Homo sapiens: one gene and its partner. The protein of the gene in region 1 interacts with the protein of each later gene in a biochemical or structural test. Each region holds a gene or a part of one and is shown in the gene's direction. Other genes may lie near its edges.

The links. Proteins that work in one complex are often made in the same cells at the same time.
Region 2: the proteins of HTRA3 (region 1) and FAM110D interact in a test that uses a peptide from one of them, tested with the Homo sapiens proteins (one large-scale study listed by IntAct).

What each region holds. Positions count from the first base shown.
Region 1 is NC_000004.12:8,300,754-8,304,175, forward strand, and holds part of HTRA3 (serine protease HTRA3 isoform 1 precursor), read left to right. Parts: intron 1-1,709; coding exon 1,710-1,758; intron 1,759-3,422. UniProt on the Homo sapiens protein: Serine protease that cleaves beta-casein/CSN2 as well as several extracellular matrix (ECM) proteoglycans such as decorin/DCN, biglycan/BGN and fibronectin/FN1.
Region 2 is NC_000001.11:26,157,810-26,161,878, forward strand, and holds the start of FAM110D (protein FAM110D), read left to right. Parts: upstream 1-1,269; 5' UTR 1,270-1,317; intron 1,318-3,402; 5' UTR 3,403-3,482; coding exon 3,483-4,069.

The sequences.
Region 1 (3,422 bases):
CACTCATCTTTATTATGGATTCACACTCATCTTTATTATTGATTCACACTCTCAGCTTTATTATTGATTCACACTCTTATTAGATTCACACTTTATTACTGACTCACACTCTTACCTTTATTGATTCACACTCATCTTTATTATTGATTCACACTCTCAGCTTTATTATTGATCCAGTCATCTTTATTATTGATTCACACTCAGCTTTATTATTGAGTCACACTCATCTTTATTATTGATTCACACTCATCTTTATTGATTCACACTCATCTTTATTATTGATTCACACTCTCAGCTTTATTATCGATTCACACTCTTTATTATTGATTCACACCCATCTTTATTATTGATTCACACTCTCAGCTTTATTGAGTCACACTCTTATTAGATTCACACTCTTTATTGACTCACACTTTATTATTCACACTCATCTTTATTGATTCACACTCTCAGCTTTATTATTGATTCACAGACATCTTTATTATTGATTCACACTCAGCTTTATTGATTCACACTCATCTTTATTATTGAGTCACACTCATCTTTATTATTGATTCACACTCATCTTTATTATTGAGTCACACTCTCAGCTTTATTATTGATTCACACTCAGCTTTATTATTGATTTTCACTATCAGGTTTATTATTGATTCACACTATCAGCTTTATTATTGACTCACACTCAGCTTTATTGAGTCACACTCTCAGCTTTATTATTGAGTCACACTCTCAGCTTTATTGATTCACACTCTCAGCTTTATTATTAATTCACACTCAACTTTATTATTGATTCAGACTTTTAATTATTTTTTTTCTTCTGGTTATTCTAGGTTTTATTTGGTCTTTTTATAGTTTTTAAGACGGAAACTGAGGTTATTGATTTGAGACTTTTCTTATTTTCTAATATAGACACTTTAGTACTATTAATTTCCCTCTACCTCTACAACCTACAAATTTTAATATATTATACATTCATTTTTATTCAGCTGAACATAATTTCTAATTTCTCTTTTTACTTATTTGAAGATGAGTAATTTAGAATGTATTATTAATTTCCAAGAATTTGGGAATTTTCTGGATACCTATTATTGATTTCTAATTGTGGTCAGAACTCTTATATAAAATGAAAATTCTAAATTTATTGACTCTTGTTTATTTCTGGATCTGAGACACCTGCTAACTCACAGATTGGAGCAGCTTGGGGGATGGAGACACTATCTCAGTGAGTTGCGTGTGCAGTGCCCCAGCCACAGGGCCTGGCACATGGTTAGTACTCACTGGACATTAGCAGCGAGTATCGTTTTGAGGAAGACCAGTGGGAGGTGATGAGTTCAGTTCCAAGCAGGGAACATTTGGGGAAGCAGCAGTATGGAAGCCAGAAAGGACAGCCCCACTGGCCACTGGGGTTGGGTTGGAGCTCAGCTGGGAGAGCAGATGTCGGAGCTCACATGGTTGGATGCAGGATGCGGTGGACATGAAGCCACCTGTGGGGCGAGCCACACTAGAGCTAGAATACCCCTCAGCTCCATGATGATGGTCAGGAGAGGGCAGCTTTGCTGGACCGCAGGGGGACTGGGCCAGCTCAAGCAGAATGACACCTGCTGCTTCCTGGTCCTGCAGGGGAACTTCTGTCCTCTGCCTGTCCCCTGAGGGAGCGTGGTGGCTTTTCACAGCAGCCCTAACGGAGTCTCGCCGTGTTTCATTTCCAGACTGGAAGAAGCGCTTCATCGGCATACGGATGCGGACGATCACACCAAGGTGAGTGTCTGAAGAGTGCCATCCCCTGCTACCCCTTCCTCTCATCCCTCACCCTGACCCTCCCTCCAGACCCTGGCTGGCTGTGTTCGGCTCCTTGCAGGTGCCCAGACGGGCCGATGCACTCAGGCCTCTGACCGTTGCTCAGGCCAGTCCTTTTGCGTGGACCTTTCCCTCTTTGCCTTATAGATTCCTTCTGCTCTTTCAGGACGCTATCTCTTTCCATGGCTGCTATAACAAATTACTATAAGCCTGGTGGCTTAAAACAGCAGAAATGTGTTCCCTCTCAGTTCTGGAGGTCGGGGATCTGAAGTCAAGGGGTCGGCAGGGCTGCACTCTGCCTCTGAGGCTCCAGGGAAAGCTACTTCCTTGCCCCTTCCAGCTTCTGCTGGCTCCAGGCATCCTTGGCTTGTGGCTGCCTCCCTGCAGTCTCTACCTCTGTCTTCACTTGACCTTCTTTCTCTCTGAGTATCTGTGTGCACATCTCTCTCTCGTTTCTCTTATGAAAACATCCATCATTGGAGTTAGGGCCCACTCTAAACCAAGAAGGTCTCTTCTCAAGATCTTCAACTAATGACATCTATAAAGGTCCTATTTCCAAACAAGGTCACATTCTGAGGCTCTGGGTGTACACGAATTTGGGGGAACACCATTCTGCATTCCCAGGACACTCAAGTGGCAGAAGGTGCCTCCTCATAGCACACAGAGCCCTGGCCTCCCTCTCCAGCCTTGAACTCATCCTGCTGTGTCGGAATCACCTGTGGTGGGACCGCCCCACCCCATCCTGCCTCCTCGGCTGTCAGCTCCTTGGGAGCAAGGACTGTGACCTACTTATTCCTCCACTCTGCCCCAAAAGCAGGTCCACTGCAGAGCAGGTGCCTGGAAATGCTGAATGAGTGCAAGAAAGAAGGGGCTGGGGGAGAGGAAGCAGGGGCAGGATAGAAGGGAGGCTGGAAGTACAAACTTGAGCTTCGAGGTTTGAAGAAGGGAGAGGTCACTGCATCGGGAGCCTAGGAAGAACTCGAGAATGCTCAAGTGACCATTTCCTCAAAGCACACAGTCCCTAAAGCTGTCATTCCTCCTGTTTCACCAACTCTGCTAATCTAGGGGTGACATTTGAAAAAAATTATCAATGTCCAGTATGCCAATTTATCTTTTGTTTTCTGTCTCTTTTATCTGTCTGTCCATCCCACCTCTGTCCAGTCTTCTGTCTGTCTGTTCCATGACTCAGCATTGTCTGTTCATTCCATGACTCAGCATTGTCTGTCCGTTCCGTGACTCAGCATTGTCTGTACGTTCCGTGACTCAGCATTGTCTGTCCATTCCATGACTCAGCATTGCCTGTCTGTCCATTTCTCCTTCTATCCACCCATCCAGCATCATTCCTTCATTCATCCATCCATCCATCCATCCATCCATCCTCCCGCCCCTCCTCCCACCTGTCTACCCACTCTCTCTCCTCTCTTCACGCTTCTAACCAGCTATTGCTACCACGTTTCTCTTAAGAAGCACATCTGGTAGGGGACACAGAGTGGCCAGTGGTGGGACAGGGCAGTATGGGGGCCCAGAGGTGGCTCCTCTTCTGGTCTGGTGCTGGAGGGAGGGAGGGGCAGCTTCATACCAAAGAGCTGGGCAAAGGCTCAGGGGAGGGGCCTTGACGGCAGACT
Region 2 (4,069 bases), on another chromosome or scaffold:
GACAAAGCAGCTAATGGCATTTTGAAAAGTGCTGTAGCAACAAAATATGGAACTATCACCAACAAAATCCCCCCTTTAGGTAATAAAAACCTTTTACCGGGAGATGGGCCTTGGGTTTTCAGACCCACTACTGACTTGACAGGCAGAGGATGCAGTTCCAAATGTGGATTTGGAGCTGGGCTTTGGGCATCTCTCTCCCCCCTCAGCTCCTGTTTCCTTACTCATTAAGTGGGGGGTCATTCCTGCTGGACGCCTGTCTAGGGTCCTTGTTTGGGGGCGGTCAAAGGAGATCAGAGAGCACAGACGGGAATGTGCTTTGCAAACATGAAAGAGGGCTAGAAAGGAGGAGGAGGGACTTGGGGAAGGTGGCCAGCCAAGGGGGGAAAGGAACCTTTGGCCTGAGCACTGGTCTTAGTCTGGGCTGGAGAGTTTAGTTTGCCTGCTGGGGAGAGGGGAGGTGTCTCCTATGAGGTAGGGTTTCACCTTGAGACATAAGGTGTCAGAGAAGAAACTCTGATGGAAGAAGCTCTAAGAGGCTCCAAGTGTGGGCAGAGAAGGAAGCGGGCCAAAGGACCTGGGCTTGGCCCTGGAATCAGCCCCTCATCACTGTCTTCCCAGGCAATCCCATCTGCCATGAAAGGACCTTGGCAGAGGCAGCTCCAGTGGGCTCCAGGGTCACCTTCATGACAAGACTTGCCGCCACAGGCTCACCTGCACATCTATAGCACCAATGCCCCCACCCTTAGGCTGCAGATTCCTGGTCTCGCCCCCAGGGAAAGCAGGCTTGACACCACCCAGCACCCAGACCAAGACAGGTCTCAGCCTGCTACAGAGGGAAAAAAGCAAGTTGACTAGAACCCTGTTCTGCCTTCCCATTCAGACTGTCAGAGCATCTGCCACAGCCCAGGGAGGGGGCTGATCCCACATACGGAGCCCCCACCCCAGGCCTTTGGAGGAAGCCTGGGGATCAGGAGGCCTTGTTTGGAGTCCTGGCTCTGCCCAAGCTCACAGTGCTTCCACAGCCAATCACCTAACCGGGCTGGGACTGTTTGACCATCTGTAAAATAAAAGGAGCTGGACTTGGTTCACAGGTCTCCACAGCGCAGGACTGTGATCAGGAAAGAGTTAATGGAGGCCAGGATCTGCCTCAGGAAGGCGAGGGTTAATTTGGGGGGCGGGGGGTGGAGGCTTTCTCTGCTTTTCCTGTGGAGAGTGAGGTTTGGCTGCCACCAAAGTTACTTCTAGTCCTTGCTGTCCACTCCTGCCCTCAGTCTGGACCTGCCCAAGGACCCCTGCAATTAGGCCTCCCATGCAGAGGTGAGTGTACCCTGAGCCCAGGGCTGGGGTAAGAAGGAACCCAGGGGCCTGAGGGCAGGGAGACTGGTGCCAAACTAGTGAGCCTAAAAGATGGCCCATGCCCAGAGCAGAAGCCTTGGGCAGAGTTGAGACCACAAGTTTCAGGACTGGGAGAAGGCAGGCAAAGGAATGGAGGGCCCGAGGCTGCCTGCCAGGCTTCTAGGGCGGGATGTCTGAGGTCCGGCCTCCAGGCTAGCCCAGAAGGCAGGGAAGAGGCTGTGGATGACAGACTATTTTGGTCCTTGTGATTAGGAACTTTTTATAGTCTCCCTGCTCAGGGCTGGGGAGAAGAGGAGAGGACAGAGGGCACCCATGGGGTCAGACAAGCAGTGCCTTCCTGGGACCTTGGAATCTGACCCACTGCCAAGGAGACTCCCTGGGAGACAGGGAGGGGGACACTGCCAGACTCTCCTTGGTTCCCAGGCCTCAACTACCTATGAGCAGACTGACTACACACTAGATGCTGGGTGCAGGGGTGGGCTGGACCTGGCAGGGTCTCTGCCCCAAGGCCTCTCACAGACTCCTTCCCCACTTCCCTGGCTAATTCTGTTCCTTTGTTGTCCCCAGATCCAAGGTCCCTCAGCCTCCAGGACTCAGGGGGAGTAGGGGAAGATAGGGGTGGGGTCGGGTGTGCAGGGCCATGTGGGTGGCCCATTCTGTTACTGCCAAGAGAACTGTCAGCTCTTGATTTACAACCCCTCCTCGCTCCTTGCCCCAGCAGAAGGGAGGTGGAAAAGGGTCATGAGGTCTTAGGATAAAAAAGGGACAAGGACCCTGGGGGCAAATTTCTGGGAGTGGGAGCGCAGGTTATTAGGAAGAATTAGTGGAAGGAACTTTTTAGTGAGGCAAGGGGCCCATTTCTAACGGAAATTGCTTGGTTTTATAGCAGCGGGAATACACGCAAAATATCAGTGAGTTCTTTTTTTTTTTCTTTTTTTTTTTTTGAGACGGAGTCTCGCTCTGTTGCCCAGGCTGGAGTGCAGTGGTGCGCGATCTCGGCTCACTGCAACCTCCGCCTCCCAGCTTCAAGCGATTCTCCTGCCTCAGCTTCCCAAGTAGCTGGGATTACAGGTGTGCGCCACCCCGCCTGGCTAATTTTTGTATTTTCAGTAGAGATGGGGTTTTGCCATGTTGGCCAGGCTGGTCTGGAACTCCTCACCTAAGGTAATTCACCCACCTCGGCCTCCCAAAGTGCTGGGATTACAGGCATGAGCCATCGCGCCTGGCCTCAGTGGGAAGTTCTGATAGGCAAGTGAGAGATCCAATCTGAACTGCAAGGCAAGAAACCTGGGTGACAAAGCAAGACTCCGTCTAAAGAAAAAAAAAAAAGAAACCTGGGTTCCAGTCCTGGCTCCTAACTCTCAATAGGACCTGAGCAAGCCCCCCTCCTCTCCAAGCCAGTTTCCTCTTCATGAAATGGAAATGCAAAGGTTAAACAAGGTGATGTTTACAGTTTGGCATTCTGCGATCCCCTTGGCAGGGGCAGAGTAGCTGGCAGTAGCTGATAGGGCCTGGGGACCACCTCCCTCTCCTGCCCCGATGGCCCTGCTGGGCCTGGGCAGGGCAGTTGGCTGCAATTACTGGAGGCTCCTACCCTGTGGTTATATCCCCGACCTCGGTGTTTGGGGGCGGGAAGGGTGGGCCCTGCTGGAGCCAGCCTGTGGCTGGGAGCCTTCTTGTCTTGGGCTCAAAGCTGCTGGGTTGGGAAGAGGTATTTTTTCCGGTTGAAGCCACTTTCAGGAATTGGGCCGGGACCAGCCCTGTTTCCTTTTCCAAGTGTCCTGCTTGCTAAGGCCTGCTTGCACGACCCTGTGGCCAGATTGGGGCACCTTCAAAGGGGAATATGTTTCTGAGTGGCCAGAGAGACCCCACTCAATGTCTCTGAAGGACAGGGAAAGGGGATGGCCTGAGCCTCTGCTCCCTGGATGTGGCACCGGCTAACCTGGATGGGAGAGGGTGGCTGACTGATCCTATACTGAGGAATGCCGGCAGGAGAGGACCAGGGGCATTTCCTACCCTTCCCCTGACCTTCCTCTCTCCCTGCAGGTCAGTGAGAGCCCAAGCCAATTGCTCTAGGCCCCGTGGCTGGCTACTTATGGGGCACTGTCCTGACCAGCTCTGCTAAGATGCTCCTGGCCCCTCCCTCCACCCCGTCCAGAGGACGGACCCCCAGCGCCGTGGAGAGGCTGGAAGCCGACAAAGCCAAGTATGTCAAGACGCACCAGGTGATAGCTAGGCGACAGGAGCCAGCCCTGCGTGGGAGTCCTGGGCCGCTCACGCCGCACCCCTGCAACGAGCTGGGGCCCCCTGCATCGCCCAGGACGCCCAGGCCGGTCCGCCGGGGAAGCGGCAGGCGGCTGCCGAGGCCTGATTCCCTCATCTTCTACCGCCAGAAGCGGGACTGCAAGGCTTCGGTGAACAAAGAGAACGCCAAGGGCCAGGGTCTGGTGCGGCGCCTCTTTCTGGGTGCCCCGCGGGACGCTGCCCCGAGCAGCCCGGCCTCCACAGAGCGACCTGCGGCTTCAGGGGGTTGGGCTGCGCCCCAGGATGCCCCGGAAGCGGCGGGAAAGCGGGCGCTGTGTCCCACGTGCTCGCTGCCCCTGTCGGAGAAGGAGCGCTTCTTCAACTACTGCGGCCTGGAGCGCGCGCTGGTGGAGGTGCTGGGCGCAGAGCGCTTCTCCCCGCAGAGCTGGGGAGCCGACGCCAGCCCGCA